Linked DNA regions of Homo sapiens: region 1 is linked to region 2. Evidence: fine-mapped expression QTL. A gene starts in region 2. The other region holds a variant in brackets. All regions are shown on one strand. Distances are from middle to middle. Region 1 holds the start of LOC124902212 (a long non-coding RNA gene). Region 2 holds the start of CARD19 (caspase recruitment domain family member 19).

Region 1 (8,317 bases), 34 kb after region 2:
CCAGGAGTTTGAGACCAGCCTGGGCAGCATAGCAAGACCCCGTGTCTACCAAAAATAAAAAAATTAGCTGGCATGATGGCATATAGCTGTGGTCCAGCCTACCTGGGAGGCTGAGGCAGAAGGCTCGCTTGAGCCTGGGAGGTTGAGACTGCAGTGAGCTGTGATCAAGACACAGCAAGACCCGGTTTCAAAAACAAAACAAAACAAAACAAAACAAGGCTGAGCGTGGTGACTCATGCCTGTAATCCCAGTATTTTGGGAGACTGAGGCTGTTGGATCACTTGAGCTCAAAAATTCGACTGGGCAACATGGCGTAACCTCATCTCTACAAAAAATACAAAAATTAGCCGGGCATGGTGATGAGCGCCTGTAATCCCAGTTACTTTGGGGGCTGAGGTGGGAGGATCGCTTGAGCCCAGGAGATGCAGCTTGCAGTGAGCCGAGACTGCGCCACTGCATTCCAGCCTGGGTGACAGAGGGGGACCTTGTTTCAAAAAACAAAACAAAACAAAACAAAAACCAAAGTGCAGGGTGGGGGGAGGGGGGGTGCCACTTCCTGGACTGCATGTCTGGGTGATGAGGGCCAGGAACTCGGCAGCTCCTTGAGAGCCAAGTGTGCAAGGTGGTGGGCACCTGTCCCAGGCGATGCGAGCAGATGCCAGCAAGGTGAGCAGGTGGCCTGGCTGCCCCCACCTGGGGACCTACCAAGGAAGATGAGCAGCACCCCCACGCCGATCTGCAGCACAAGGGAGATGGAGATGAGGACCACCAGGGGCACATAGAAGGCGAAGCTGGGGCCCTGTTCCACGACGGCCTTCAGCTGGGACGCGTTGGCCATCAGCAGCGCGATGTCCAGCATGCTCTCGGCTGCGCTCTTCTTGCTGGCGTAATGGTTCACGTTGATGGGCCCGTGCCTCCAGCCCCAGCGGGCCGGCTGCAGGGAGGGGAATGGTCAGCAAGGCGGGTGGGGGAGGGGGGCAAGGGCTGTGCCTGAGTCGGGCTCTGGGGGTCACCGGGCCCTGCAGGTGAGGGCTTCCCTTGCCCCCACCCCTGGTAAGTGCTCAGACAGAAGTGCTTATTACCCTAAGGAGAGGCTGCGAGCATGTGCTCAGCCTTTATAAAACCTCCCCTAGGAATACGGTCCTGGAGAGAAAGGAAACGACATAGCAACCTTAGCACACGCACTCTGATTTTCCACTGGAAAGCATTGCCCGATCCTCCCACTCCTGCCATAGGCGGGGCTGCTCCTCCCTGCCTGCCCCTACCGGTCTGTGCCCCCGGCCTCCTCTCCCCCTCCCCTCAGAGTCTGAGCTCCTGATGCCAGGAAAGGAAGTGACGTGTGGGCGGACAGATCTGTGCACACCGGCCCAGGCAAGAAGCAAGTCCTCCTGGGCCGGACCTAAGGGCAGAGATCGCCCCTGCCACCTCCCAACCTCCCAGCCTTGGGGCCCAACAGGCCACTCGCCTCCAGGCCTCAGCACAGGCCTTGCAGAACTATTCGGCCATTAGCAGCAAGACTTCACTGAGGTGGGCCACCCAGAGCCCGGCCCCGACACAGCAGAGGCTCAACAGATGCCTCAGCATACGACATACAGTGGAGCTTAGCTTCCACATTACTTCCCAGAGTAATAAAATGGGAATGCGAGTTCTGATGGAATCCTCTTTGCCTTAGGGGCCTATCTGGTCAGGGCCCCCTGCAGTTCTCTCGAAGCCCCCAATGCCTTTCCCTGGTGCCAGACACTCTCAAGCTCCAAGGCCCCACACAGAGGCCACTGCTTCCAGGAAGCCTCCCAGGACTTCCCCTGGCAGGACATGGCCCTCTCTCCTGCCACAGGAAGGTCCTCTCTAGGGCTGGCCCTTCATTCCAAGCTAAGTACCAAACTTCCTCTTTCTCTGGAGCAAGAGTCTGCCCCTCTCAAGCTGCCCTGGTGGGGCCCTCTTCAGTCACTCAGGACAAACCTGCCAGCCCCTTGGCCCGGCCCTTTGTCCACAGGCGCCCCTGAGTTGCCAGGCCCTAGACCACAGCCTCCCAGGACTGGTCACCTGCTTGGAGGCAGCTGTGAGAACCCACTGCTGGCAGCCAACCTCCTGGGGCCCTCTCTGGGAGATCCTGTTTCCAGACTCATGAAAGATGCAGGCCGGGAGGCCGGGGTGCCGCAGGGCCACAGGGAGGGGCGGACATGGTATCCATCCAGGCCTCGACTTTCTGCAGGCTGGAAAAATACACGAGGCAGCCAATACAGAACCAGCAGAGGGCAGGGGCCTTGCTTTCATGCTGCGTGTTTTTCAGTTTCATCTAAAATTATGTGCCCAGGAGGAAGAGAGTGGGCGTCAGGGGACACTGGTGGGCTCTGCTGCTTACACCTGGGCCTGGGAATTCCAACAACCTGCCTTCAGCATCAGCTGCTCTCTAAGTAGCAAGTTCACGTGGACACATGTGCGCACAGGGACAGCCGCCTTTACCTGGGCCACCCAGCAGCGCTGTCCCTGGGGCCCTGGTGTGCTCTCGGGTCACTCCATGCATACCCCGAAGCCTCTATGGGGTGTCTACTTTGCCTCTCCCACCCTGGGCCTGACGCTGCACTCCCTGGGATTCCCCCAGGCCCCAGCACAGCCAGGGCACTCACCAAGTGAGAGGCTGTGTTCCTCTCCCATTCTACAGACCAGCAGATTGCAGCTTGGAGGAGGTTTGCCCAGAGCCACCTCCCAGGACTGTGTGTCCCTGTCCCACCACTGTCCACTTAGGGGCTTCCTCCCAGGCTGCCCAGGGTCTGGGTGAGGACAGCCCGGACACAAGGGCCTGTGCCTGGCACTGAGGTCGTCTCCAGTTCTGCTCTTGCGAAGCTGCCCAGTGGGCCACACCCCATCACACGTGTGCTCCGCAAGGTGCAGTGTCCCAGGGGCTGCTGGCCACAGTGGGCATGTGCTCCTAAGTTTCACAAACCTCAAGTGCCAAAGTGCCTTCCTTCAAGGCCACCCTTATGCTCATTCGGGTCTCCATCCCAGGACTTGGTGCTGGGAGAAGGCCAAGTGCAGACCCCGTGAGGATTTCCACCTTCTGGGGGCATCTACACATATATGTGCGTGTTCCTAGTCACAAAAGCACAGAAACACACATCCCCCAGAAAGACACACATAGACGTGAGACACACATGTGCACACAATACGCACACACAAATACACATGCACATACATACATATGCACACGTACATAAACAGACACACAAGCCCAGGCTAACTGTGTTGGCCTCTGGGCAGGAGGAAGAATTCCCTTTTTTTCTGAGCTCTGCAGAACCATTTAAATATTTCACAGCCATGCAGTCACGAGGAACACTCAGATCCATTAAAAAGCACCATCCGCGCAGAGCCTCCAGCTCCCCAAGCCTCAGCTCTCAGCACCCCCAGCCACGAGGAGCCTGTGCCCCTGCTGTCCTCATGCCCACTTAAGGTGGGTAAACTGAAGCCCAGCAAAGGCGGTTCCTTACCCAAAGCCACATAGCAAGTGAGGGCTTGGCTAGGATTTGAACCCAGGCCCCGGGGCTCAGAAGCTCTGGTAGCTGATGCCATTGTCCCTTAGGGGCTGAACTCTCAATGGCTCCCTGCTTCAGGCTCCAGCTGTGTCCGGACAACTAGCCCCACTTTGTGCCTCAGTCTTCCATGTGTACCACGAGGCTGTGGAGCAGATGCCCCAGGATGGCCTCTGAGCCCCGAGTGGCCAGCAAATGCCCTGACCATGCACCCCTGCTGGTGAAGGGCACTTCCAGCCCATCCGGCCATCTGCTTCCTGTCCAACCTGCAGCTAGGGAAGCTTCTGCATGCAGGTCAAGCCCTGGCTCACCACAGCCCAGCCCGTGGCCCTGACGCAAGCTCCCCCTCCGTTGGCCTCAGTCTCCCCCTCCGTATATCTAGGGTTGCACCTGGGAAACTCCTGCTTACCAAGGGAGAGGCTGTGTTCCTCTCCCATTCTACAGACCAGCAGATTGCAGCTCAGAGGAGGTTTTCCCAGAGCCATCTCCCAGGACTGTGTGTCCCAAAGCATAGGGCTGCCCCAGGATACAGCATAGCTGGCAACCACCCCAGGCAGCAGGCCACATTGGGAGCATCATGTGGAGGGGAGGGCAGCAGGGACAGTCTGCTTCCCTGTCCCTAACCTTGGTACTCTGGGCCTTGGAGCCCTGAGCTGACCACCACACAGGAGGGTCCCAGGGAGGACGATCCCACTCTCCCCCAGTCCTGGGCACTTGCCTCTATCTTGGGATGGGCCTGAGGGTGGCCGGGGGACCCAGCTACCACAGGTGAGGGAGCCCTGTGGTCCTGACCAGCCAGCAGGAGCTGCCAGGAGCTAAGCCCTGCTGAGACCAGTGCCCATGGCTTGGGCAGGGCAGGGAATAAACACCCTGGTTAATAGATTCCCAGAACCTCAGCAGCACTCGGGGCCTGGGGCCAGGCCAGATATATTTCCTCTGAAAGCTAGGAGGGAGGCTTGGTGAGGAGGTCAGCTCTGTGTAGGGGCGTGGCTGGCTCCTCATGCAACCTTCTGTGGACGGTCGGCCTCCCCACTGCAGGCTGCACATGTTGGGGCTGGGCCACACGGTCGGTCCTAGGGCCACTTCAGTGAGCATCCTCAGCTCAGGCAGGAGGGGCTGGCACAGAAGTGGGATATGAACCAGGCTTGCTGCATCCACCGGCCTGGCTCTGGCCATAGCATAATGGGTGTTCTGGCTCACCCAGGGCTTGGA[T/C]GGGAGGAGACAGGGTCGGGGCTGTGGGCCCACAAATGTGGTGATGCATATCAGTCGCCCTTTCCAGGGGCCTGTGAGGAGTAGGGCTGGAAGCTGCCACAGCACCTCCTTTACCCCCCGAGTCCTGCCTCAACACTGACCACTCTATGCCTCAGTTTCCTCATTTGTAAAATGGGTAGACAAGGATGTGGAGGGGACTGAATGGGGTGGTCTCAGATGCCCCGTGGCTGGTGGAGCGCATGGCAGTGGGTGGCAGGGCTGTTTTCCTTGATGCCTGGCTCTCACTGTTTTGAAAGACTCTGCCTCCCCGACCAACTCCACTGACTCAAAAGCAGCTGAACAGGCTCACAAAACAGTCACACAGCAAAGAAAGGACAGCCTGGGGCACAGGTTCTCCTGTGCTGAGCAGGACCCAGGGGGACAACAGGGACGAGGTGCCTGCCCTGGGTGCCTGGGGGGTCCCAGTCTACACCTTGGCTGCTCGCAGCCTGTCCTGCTCACTGGCCCTAACCCTTGGACTCAGCAGGCATTGGCAGATGGTGGGGCGACCTGAAAATCAGGCACCCCTCTTCTACCCCACCATATGCTAGGACCTGCCTGGGGCTTCCGGCATCCCTTGTCTGACCCACCAGTGTGGGCATGAGCTGCTGTGCCCATTCCCCAGATGCCACACAGACAGGCAGGGCCTGGCACTGGAGCCCTGCACCGTCTCCTACCGGCCAGCCCAGGAAGCAGGCCCTGAGAGGGTCTCCCAGCTCCATGTCTGTGTTCCTGGCAGGAAACCCCAGCAAGACAGCAGGAAGTGCTGGAAGGCGGGGTTCCCACCACAGCTGGGCCAGGCAGACCCACTTCCCGCGGACTCAGCACTGGCCACGAGTGGCCCTGAGACCATGTTAGGGTTGCCTTTTAGAACTTGGCCCAGACCCTGCCGGCCTCAGGATCTGCCAGGAAAGCGGAAATGAGGAAACGAGCAAACCTCCTCCTGGGCAGCTGAGGCCATGCACGGCCCAGACGGCAGGTATACAGGGCACAGCTACCTACCTCCAAGGACCATGCCTCTCGGCCCAGATGTGGCCCCAGGAACCTTCAACCTGCGGGCTGTGAGGGGCAGGAAGGTGTGGCTGGCACCAGATGGCCGTGTCCTAACCCCATCCCCACCACCTCCCTGCCTTGAGACACCCTGGGGATAACAGATTCAGGCCATTTTCACATTAACATTGTTGTTTACTATTCCTTCTGCTGACAGCCACAAGTGAGCTGACTCAATCCCTGGACACTGATGGGGGCCCTCACATGAAGGGCCACAGGGGCGCAGGGCACACGGGGTAGGGGAGACCTGAGAGCTTCCCACGGCCGTGGCCCAACAGAGCCCACCCAGGTTGGAGTTCCACGTGTGGCTCCTCCCTGAGCCTTGTCCACCCTGGGAGGTGAGCAGTTGTGCCCCATTTTACAGAAAAGGAAACTGAGACTCTCCATTTTACAGAAAAGGAAACTGAGGGAGCTGGGCAAAGCGCTGCCCTCTCCAAACCACTGCCAGGGGTCACCAGTGGGAGAGGGTCTCCGTGGCAGGCAGAAGGATGAGGGCGCTGAGTGCTGGCCTGGCTCTAAGCACTTCATATACATCAGCTACTGAGTCCTCACCACTCTCTATGGCAGGCACCGCGACCACACCCATTTCACAGATGAGAAACTGAGGCACAGAGTGCTGACATGATGTGCCCAAGAAACGGAGAAGCAAGGTCTTGAGGTTGGGAAGAGGAACAGGTGTGTTGGGTGGTCCTGGGCCCCCAGGCTGGGTGAGCAGAGCGGCCCTCGAAGTTTTCTACCCCTCAAGGGGAAATGTGCTCATCCTCACACTGGCTCATAGCCTTTCCACAGCTCCCTGGACACCAGACCGTGATCAGGCCTGCAAGGCCCCTCCCATCGGCCTGGCTTCCCATCCCCCCACCTCCTACCTGGCCCTCATGTGCTCTGTGGTCCAGCCTCTGAGCCTTTGCTCCCACTGTTCCCTCTGCCTAGATGCCCTTCCACACATCTCAGAGAGCCAGATCTGCTCACCCACCTTCCCTGCCCTCCAGGGCTCAGAGCCAATGTCCCCACCTCCACAGAAAGCCTTCCCTGACCACCATGCCCCGCCCCCCACGATGGGCTCCCAGCCCCCAGGGAACCCCCTGCTTTGCCCTGGCCTCTCCTGCCCTGTCTGGGCTGGGCTGCTCTCCAACCGCGGCTTGGTGGGGCGGGGCTGTGTCTCTCTCCCTCTGGTGCCCAGAGCCAAGACAGTGATCCGGGAACAAATCCAACCCAATCTCCTCTGGGCTTGAGATGCACCCATCTCAGGAGGCACAGCCTATCCTGCCGCCCGCAGAAGTGAGCAGAGACTGCTCTGAGTGGAGGGCATTGCCCGGGCAAGGTCAGGGTTGGGGGAGGAGCAGTATCCCTTCCTTTCCAAGGCGCTTCCAAGCCACTGACCTGTTTATTACCTGACTTGCTTTCCCCACTTCCCTGAAGGCAGGAGAGACCCTTTGTTCTCTCTTTATAAGACCATGTCTAAAAGGCCCAGCGAGGTGTGGCAACTTCCCAAGGACACACAGCCGGAGGAGCCCCCTGCCTATTGCTCCAAAGTGCTCACACACTGGGGCAGGGCCAGGTCGCTGGGGTCCCGCACACCGGTCAAGTCCTGCAGTGCGACAGCTCCTCTCTAACCTAGGAACAAGTGTCCATGCAGCCCCAGGGCCATCCTATCCCGTGGCTCATGGGGCCCCGCCTCCCCGAACATGTCCTGTCCCCACAGCACCGGCCTAGGACTGTTCACCAGCGAGTGGGCAGAGTGTCTTTGCCCCAGTCTGGTCCACGCCATGGAGAGGCCTGGAAAAACCCAACAGGCTGCTGTTCCCTGCCCCCATCCCTGAGGGGGTTAGAAAAGGAAAGAATGTTCAAAGTAAACAAGTCACCAGAGGGCCATGCCAGGACCTTGCAACAAACACAAGGTGCTCAGTAAGTGCTGAGTCCTGGGATGAAGAATTCTGAAGCGGGACCACTACCAGGGCCTGCCCCCTGCCCACAGCCCTCCCAGGCCGGGCAGGGCAAGTTCTGGAGGGCCGGTGGCGGCATACACTGAAGGCTGTGTGACGTTTCTATTTCTCAAGGCAGGTGAGTGGAATAGGGACCACAGCGGGCCCCAAGTTCCCCCATCAAGGCACGCATCAGATTGTGTGGTCAGCGTGGGGTGACGTAACTGTCTGCATGCAGCTGGTCTGGAGCCCGGAGGCTGTGACTCCCCTCCGCCCGCCTCCGGGCAAAGTGCGCGGAGGAGCCGGCACGGCGAGGCTGAAGTTAGAGAGGCCCGCGCGAGAGTGGGGGGGAGGTCGGGAAAGCCGGGCGCCGGCAGTCCTTAGCCCGAGGAGCTGCGCCGAGGCCCCCTCCGCCGTGCAGCCAAGCGCGGGCGCTGCTTAGTGGGGCTGGGGACGCCAGCCCGCCCTGCGCCCCCACGCCCCCTCGTCCCGCCCACTTGCCGGGGGTGGCTGGAGCTCCCGGGGGCATCGTTCTGACCCTGATGGGGCGGGAAGGACTTGGCCTAG
Region 2 (8,317 bases):
ATGATTCACTCTCTCACAGTGAGTCACTGCTGGTTGTTGGCTGGGGGCCTAGTTCCTCTCCACACAGGGCTCTCTGCAAGGCAGGTTGAGCATCCTTACAATATAGTAGCTGATTCGCCCCAGAACAAGCTATCTGAAGATGCAAAGGCTGAAGCCATGATGCCTCTGTGACCCAGCCTCAGAAGTCACACTGTCACCCCTGCCACACTTCACTGGCCACACAGACCAGCCTGATTGACTGTGGGAGGAGACTACACAAGGGCATGACCTGGAATGTGAGGATTGCTGGGGCCACCTTGGAGGCTGGCAACCTCATAGGCATCCTCCGCCTCTTTCTTTGCCTGACTCATCTCCCTAGCTCTTACCAGATCAACATGCAGATGTGTGTTTGTGTCCTCTGGTAACAGGGAAGCTCCATGGGGGAGTGGAGCTTCCAGTCTTCCTTGTGATCCAGCTCTGGGTTGGGCCTATGTTTAGGAGATATTTGTTGAATGAATTAATGAGTGACTGAATGGATAAATGATGCTCCCTGGCCATGTGAGAATGTGGGAGGAGAATGTCCTTGCTCCTTGGTGTTCAGGCCCTTCATCACCTACCATCACCTCTTGGCCTGGTTACAGTCAGCTTCAGCCATGAAGGTCTCCCACAGCCCATGGGGGCCTCATGCCTCCTGCCCTGGCCTAGGAACACCCGTTCTTCAGCATCAGCCTCTCGGGGAGGCCACCCTGTCATCTTTATAGCATCTGTCCTTGCCCTCCTATCCTTAACCCTAATCATCAACAGAACTATCTGTGTGCATTCATTAAGTGCCTCCTGCATGCCAGCCTTTGTGGAGTGAACACTGCAGCACAGATGATGGTCAGTGGAGAAGCCATCATAGGGCAAGACTAGTGCTCTGAAGAACAGAGATGGGGGGTGGGGTGCAGTGGCGAGTGACGTGGTCCAGAAGGGCCAGACTCCAAGTGGGGGTGAGGATGCTAGACACAGAGCTGGGAAGAGCATTCTGGGTGGTCACAGCACACATGAAGATTTGTAAATGGCAGAGGTGGCTGCTGGAGGAACTGGAAGGCTGTGAGCCCGGGTGAGGGAGGAGGATGGTCAGACTCAGTGTTATGACCCCTGTGGCCACTATGTGGGTACTGGGCCATGGGGACAAGGATGGGGCAGGGAACCAGTGAGATGTGAGAAGGCGGCTGCCACCTTCCAGGCAAGACATAACAGGGATGGCGGTCACTGAGGTGGGAGCAGGGCTGGGCTTGGAAGGCAGAGCCCACAGGGTCAGGGTGCAGGTGAGCAGAGGCCTGAGGAATGGCTGGCCCTATGAAAACCAGGGGGAGTGCCCCCACCCAACCCAGTGCAAAGAACCCCTGTGGAAATTAGCTTTGCCTGTATAATTTTAAAATTGTGCCTGCTTTCTAATGAGATCAAGCATGTGATGGCAAGAAAATCTGAAAGAAGCAAATAGTAAGGTGGAGGCCGTTCAGAGGAGTGGGGGTGTGTGTGTGTCAGGGCTCTGGCTTCTGTGACGTTGACAAAGATTCTGTGCTTGACAAACTTTAGCCAGGGTCCTGAACTTTCTCCTTGGCCCATCTGTGAACTTCCTTGTAAAATCCAGTTTCAACAAAGAATCCTCCTAATGAGTTTGGCAAGAACTCCCCACCCTGGATACTTGATCACCCTTGATACCCAATCAGGGTGCTTACCCCCACCATCCCCTGGGTGAGGTCTCGTAAGCCCAGGCTGTCTTTGCAAGAATTCTGTCAGCCGGAATCCCCTTCACCCTGATGTTTCCTCTTCCTAATTTTCCATCCTCAAAGTCCCCTCCTGTCCCAAGTGTCCTTGCTGTATTTGGAATTGAGCCCAGTTCTCTGCTGATGTCTCTCTTCCCCTATCACAAGAGTCCCGAATAAAAATCTGTTTCTACATCTGTAACCACAGTCCAGCTCTGGTTTTTCTTTGACAGTGTCCAAGGGCGGGGCTTCCTGTCACACCTCACTTCACTCCTTCTAAGGGGCCCCTCCACCTTCCCAAGAACTCACTTTCCATTTGGGGTCCAGGCAGCCACAGCTGGCAAGAGCTAGCCCGGAGGGAGGATGCGTGTGCTATGCCTGGGGGAGGGGGAATGCCCAGGATCTGCCATTTGACCATGGGGTGCCCGTGCCTGCTTGCAGCCCCCGTGGTGGGCATCCAGGCTGTACACCCCTGGCTGCACCAGCAGCTGTCCTGCTTTCTGCCGCGGCCTTCCATCTCATAGGGTTGGAGGGCACATCCCAGAGGGCACAGGGCTTTCAGTCCCTGCATGCAGGCTTGGGTTCCTTTAAGTAAATCCTTTTCAAACCCTCAGGTGGCTGAGGAACAGCGACCTGTACTTGGGAGGCCACATCTGGCTGCTAGATTTTGGGCAAGGGGCTTCATGCTCCAAACCTCAGTTTCCCTGTTCATCACATGGCCAGGGGCAGTCCTGAGGGCGCAGAAGTGGATGTGAAGGTGGGATGCTACCTTTCCCAAAAGGGGCTGGGGTCAAGGTTCCCTGAAGGTGGGCAGTGCCTGGAGCCCCTGCAGTCCCCACTGTGTCCCCCTTCCACTCCGTCGCCACCCTTATGGCTCTGACATCACTCAGGGGCAGGAGTGTGTGCAAAATAAACCCAGAGAAGTAAGTACTACACGTCATAACAGTGTGATGGATGCAGAAGAATTGGGGTCAGGCTGCATCCCACTGGGGCAAAAGAGGCCCTCTGGGGAAGCCCCCTCTGGGTCCTCCAGGGGAGCACCTGGAGGCCAGAGCCAGCCTGGACTCACCCAGGCACACAAGCAGATGAGAGGCCTGCAGGGACCCACAGGCTGGTCCACTACCCTCCTGCCCTGGGACGGCCCTGTACATGGGCCTGGGGCAGGCTGGGTCTGATGGCAGCCTGGCCTCCTGGGGAGCATGGACGGGGCTCACCTTCAGTGTTTGGGGACAGGGGTGGCTGCTGTATAGTGACCATGACTGGGCCCCAAGAATTTTGAGGTTTCCAGGTGACAACTGCACCCATTCTCCTGATGCCCCCTATGCCGGCCCTGATGGGAGGTCATGGCACAGGGGAGAACTGAGGCAAAGAGACAGATGGCGCATGGACTGCAGGGACCACTGTGCTGTCCGAGAAGGGGACACTGAGTTGGGCCCCCATTCCGGGTCAGGCTCTGGCATCTCAAATTAGAGCTGCTATGGGGGAACGGCCCACACAGGCAGGGAAGGAAAGAGGAAGGGAAACTGCTGCTGCTGGCTGGGAGAGTGCTGCTATTCCTTCCTTCACGGGTCTCCACTTCCTGGCTGGGGCCCAGTGCATTCACATCATGTGGGGCTAGGAGCTTCTTGTGGCGGGCTCCGGAGCTGGAAATGCCAGGCCTACGAGAGGGAAAGCAGGAAGGAAAGCGGGAGGGAAGTGGAGTTGGCCCAAGGTCACTCATTTTACAGTCCAGGAAACTGAGGCTCAGGCAGGTTAAGTGACCTCTCTAGTTCGGGTCACACTGTCAAGCTAGTGTCTTCTTTTGAAGGTGGGGGACTGGGGTCCCCCAAGAAGGTGTCCCCCCCCCACCCCGCCGAGCGAGGTCACACCGTTGAGTCCTTCTCCCCTGGATTTGGGAAAGCATCACTGGGCACTGCCTCCTTTGGCTGGTCCCTGTGGCGTACTGGACGCCCACCGGCCTTTTGCCCCAGGCCTGGCCCTGTACTCCCCAGGGCCTGACTTTCTGTATGACGTTGGATCAGTCACGTCCCCTCTCAGTTTCAGTTTTCTCATCCAAGGGGTGGGGCGCGAGGCCGGGAGCGGGGAGGTGGACTGAGCCGGCCGGCGGGCCACCTGGATCCCGACTCCGCCACTCAACGCGGCAGGGCCCGGAAGGGCGGGCCCAAGACGGGCAGGGCTCCGGGCAGGAGCGGGCGCCTCCAGGGAGGCGCGCGGCGGTCGTAGCTGAGGCCGCCTTGAGGGCGGGACTTGGACGCGGGCAGGGCTCGAGTGAGAGGCGGGGTTAAAGGCCGCTGCGACGGCGTTATAGACGCCGGCGGGACCGGGGCCCAGCGAGGGGAGGGACTCTGGGCCCCTCGCGGCGTCTTAACTGACGCTGGGAGGGGCGGGAGTCCGGTGGCGCCCGCCCACGCCCGCAGTCGCCCGCCCACGCCCGCAGTCGCATGGCAGAGCAGGAAGGGGCGGGGCTCAGGGCCCCTGGAGGCGCGGAGGCCGACGACGGAGGGGGGCGGGGCTCGAGTAAGGGGCGGGGCCCGGTGGGGGGTTCCTTGAGGCTCGGAAGCCGTCGTCGGAGGGGGCGGGGTTCAGGTGCAGGGCGGGGCTCAGAACTCCGGGAGAGGCGGAAGCCGACGCCGGAGGGGGCGGGGCTCGAGTGAGGGGCAAGGCTCCAGGATCCTCGCAGCGGCCTATCCCAGGACGGCAAGGGGGCGGGACTCGAGTGAGAGGGGCGGAGTTTAGAGCCCTGGGGGAGCCGTAGCGGGCGCGGAAGGGGCGGGGCCTAACGGTAGGGGGCGGGGCTCGTCAAAGGGCGGGGTTTAGAGTCCCCGAGGCTACACAGCCAAAGCCGGGGGGCTGGCCTAGCCAAAAGGGGCGGGCGAGCACGGCCCGCGGGCGGCGTTCGCTGGAGCTGGTGGACCGGGCGGCTGACCGAGGGGCGGACGCGCGGCGGGGCAGACCGCTGGGGACTGCGGGCGGCGCTGTGTCCGTCGCCATGACAGGTGGGCACGGGGTCGGCTGGGCGGCAGGGATGCGGGCGCCCTGGATGGGTGGCCCGGCCCGGGGGTCCGGCTGCCTTGCGAGTCGCCTGCAGGCCGCGCCTGGGCAGCGGGGGCCGAGTGACCTTGGCCCGTCAGCTGTCGGTGGTGCGCGAGTGCACCCCCGCGAAGTGGTGGGTGTCCCGGGGCTTCTACCCGGCGGGGCCGTGCCAGCCGAGGCGGTGCCGGGCATGATGGGTGGTGGCCAGGTGCGGGGCCCGAAGAGGGCGGGGGCTACAAGGCAGCTCCAGGGTGGGGCTGCACAGCCGCGGTCTGGGCTCAGCCACTGCCAATGTGTGTGTGTCCCGTGGTGGGGAATTTGGTCTGAAAGAGTAGGAGGTGGTAGAAATGACACCGGAGAGAATTCACAGCGGTCCTGCTGTGATTCTGGCCACGGAAACAACGCTCCATCCTTACAACCACCCCAGCGAGGTCGCGGGACAGGCGATGCGTTCCTCGGCGGCATGTGATTCCTGTGGGACTCTTGGAGTCTCCCAGACTCCTTCGGTGGTCCACGACGCTCTTGCCCCTGTTTAGTTCTAAGAGAATCGGGGACAGCGACTGGACCCCCCAAGGTTGTTGTGCTCCACGCTAGTGGCCCCAGCCCAGCCTTCCTCCCCAGGGCCTCTCTGGTCTGGGGACCTGCCCACCATCCTCCTGATCCCAAACAGGGTGACTCTGCCCTGTGGACCTTCCCCTGTTGGAGAAGCCCCATGAGGGTGATGGGCTGGTAAGGGACCCCATGGCAGCCCGGCCAGGGAGTATGGGGGTTCCCAGAAGCTACACTTCATTCTTACTGTTCTGTTTCATGGAGCAGAATTGGCTCAGGGGCTCAGGGTAGCCCCAGAAGTCCCTAGTCCTCTCTCGGTGCTCGCTCTCTTGAGTCTCAGCCTAGGTCCTGCCCACAAATAGGATCTCATGGGCTGGAAACTGATGACTTCCAGGACACCAGGCCAGAAGAGACTTCCAGCCTAGGCCACAAGAGACCCCAGCTGCCACCTGCTCCCCTTTGTCCTCCCTTCTAACTCTTCTTATTTGTGGCTCTCATTTCTGAGCACTTACTGTGCATTGGACCCTGTGTTGGGTGATTCCTGTTTGAAAATGATCAGATGGGGACACCTGGAATATCTCGTCTGTGTACAGATGGGGAAACAAAGTCTTAAATTGTGCCCTGCCCAGGCTGGGATTCCGTAATTCCCTTAGTGAGTTCATCAGAATGCGTGGGACACAACTCAGAGCTGTGTTGGTCTCCAGGGAGCCCTGTCCCAGGGACTGGGTGTTGGCAGAGCCTGAGGCCTTGCTGTCCATTAAGGAGCCTTCCTGCACAAAGGGACTTTGTCCCTTTCTGCCTGTCAGGGAAGCTTCCTTGCATAAGGGGACCCTGGAGCTGGGAAACCACATCAGGCAGGGGTCCCTGAAGGCTCTGACTATAGGCCTCACCTTGTCCAGTGTATGCTTCCTACCTGCTATGTCTACTCACTGGGCCTGGAGACATTCCCTCACAACCCTTAGTTTTTGGGATGGGGAACCAAGGCCCATGGAGCACAGCTCTGGGAGGGTCATATGGACAGCCCTGCGAGGCTGCAGACCCATAGTCCCAGGCTCACTGCCTCCATGCACCAACTGGGGTCCTGCCTTGCGCCAGCCCTCGCTGTGAGCAGCGCATGTGAGCCAGTGCCTGCAGAACGCTGAGGAGGTGTCTGCGTGGGGCAGGTGCTTGACAAGTTACCCCCTGGGCTGTGCCGGGGAGTGAGCAGTTTTAGTTGGGCTGAGCACTGAGAGAAGGGGTTTCCTGGAAGAAATTCGGGAGAGGAGGTTGATGCCCAAGTGTCTGGACTCCAGTTGGTTGGGGATGACAGGAACTCAGGAAGGCCTTTTGCACGTAGAACAGCAAGGTGAACATGAATTAACCAGGTGGAAACCAAGGAACAGGTATTCTCAGCCTGGGCTGAGATGTCTTGTGGGCCTAGAGGGCCCGGTGAGAGTGGGTGGGGCCAGCTCCCACGGGGCCTTGAATGCCAGGCTGAGGGCATCAGTCTGGGCTGATAAGAAGGTTCATATTGGGGTGTTTGAATGGGGGTCCATAGTCCTGGTGCCAGCCTGGCAAGAAGGAAGGGGATGTAGGGCGTGGTGAAGGCTTGCCAGGTCTGTGCCAGAGCGAGCCATCTTCCTTTGTCCTGTAAAAACAGTTCAGGGACTTGTTTATCGGGAGCTGGCACTGAGATGGTTTCCCTTCTTGTGCCTTTTCTGGCTTCCAAGTGCTGCCTGTTTGTGTGCACAACTCGCAACCACAGGAAGCACAGGACCCCCAAGCCGCAGAGCCTGGCTTCAGCCTCCGGACCGTGCGGCCTGTGCCAGCTGACTCACGGCTCATGGTGACTCATGGCTCTGCAGCAGCGGAGGCTCTGCCTGGTTAGCGGCTTGCAGGGCAGGAGGAAGCCACTACAGGATGCTGGCCACGGTCCACCTACAGCCCTTGCCCCTGGGTCTTGGACCATACATTGCAGAACTCTTTTTTTTTTTTTTTTTTTGAGACAGAGTCTCATTCTGTCACCCAAGCTGGAGTGCAGTGGTGCAATCTTGGCTCACTGCAACCTCTGCCTCCTGGGTTCAAGGAATTCTTCTGCCTTAGCCTCCTGAGTAGCTGGCTCAGCCTTCTGAGTAGCTGGGAATACAGGCGTGTGCCAGCATGACCAGCTAATTTTTTTTGTATTTTTAGTAGAGATGGGGTTTCACCATGTTGCCCAGGCTGGTCTTGAACTCCTGACCTCATGATCCATCTGCCTCGGCCTCCCAAAGTGCTGGGATTATAGGCGTGAGCCACCGCGTCCGGCCTGCAGAACTCTTTAGTGAGCACCTACTGGGTGCTCAGCCAAGTGGGCAATGCTGGAGAGGACAGCCTTGGGCGTGCTTTTGGACTGGCAGGGAGTAGACTGCTGTAGCTGATTACAGTGAATTTCCATGTTAATTAGAGAGGCAGAACGTCTGAATATCAAGAGGTGGTCCTCAACATGGCTGTGCCTGGGCCTGGATCTTGATCTGTCACTTCATATCTGGTTGCAGTCTTGGGCAGGTACCTTATCTTCTCACTGTGCCTTAGTTTCCCTACCTGAAAATGGGGCTGGTGGTTGTCCTTATGTTGCAAAGCTGTTGGAAGGATGAAGGTTGTAGGTGACGTAGGGCTCACAGAGTGCCAGACATATGGGATTGCTCTGTGAATTTTGGCTAATTCATCTTAGTTCTTTAACGAGAGGGCTGCAGGCGCTGGACCCAGACTGCCCAGCTGGGCCTGTCCATGTGGCCTTGGCAGGTCACTTGACGTCCCTGTGCTCAGCTTCCTCACCATGATGGGGCTGCTGGCAAGTCCGCATAGGCTGCTGTGGGACTCAGTGCAGGTGAGGGCTGAGCCAGCCTTTCCAGCCCCCAGCCATCTGCCTCCCTGCGCGGCCCACGGTGAGTGGCTTCAGCCAGATGATGGAGTGGCTGATGGCCTCAATGTGGGCATCATCAGGGGCCCTGTGAACCAGGATGGCCCCCCTATTGTTCTCTGGAGGG

What was found. PIP is the estimated chance that this variant, and not a neighbour inherited with it, causes the effect.
Region 1: its variant is fine-mapped to the expression of CARD19 in lymphoblastoid cells (TwinsUK, PIP 0.95).

Annotation. Positions count from the first base shown.
Region 1 is chr9:93,125,705-93,134,021 of GRCh38, forward strand. NINJ1 (ninjurin 1) reads right to left here. Exons shown (of 4, transcript NM_004148.4): 2 at 706-934. It overlaps LOC124902212 (a long non-coding RNA gene), which reads left to right and starts at 7,308. Exons shown (of 3, transcript XR_007061665.1): 1 at 7,308-7,889. RefSeq lists enhancers at 979-1,630, 2,388-2,447, 5,074-5,672, 5,673-6,270, 7,752-7,801 and a silencer at 8,092-8,317. The variant T/C (reference allele first, on the strand shown) is at 4,740.
Region 2 is chr9:93,091,627-93,099,943 of GRCh38, forward strand. It overlaps CARD19 (caspase recruitment domain family member 19), which reads left to right and starts at 4,591. Exons shown (of 6, transcript NM_032310.5): 1 at 4,591-4,726. The coding sequence starts at 4,720. It overlaps LOC101927993 (a long non-coding RNA gene), which reads right to left and starts at 3,884. Exons shown (of 4, transcript NR_188444.1): 1 at 3,742-3,884; 2 at 2,945-3,388; 3 at 366-467; 4 at 1-73. RefSeq lists enhancers at 3,579-3,628, 6,822-6,891 and silencers at 3,739-4,048, 4,069-4,818, 4,839-4,948.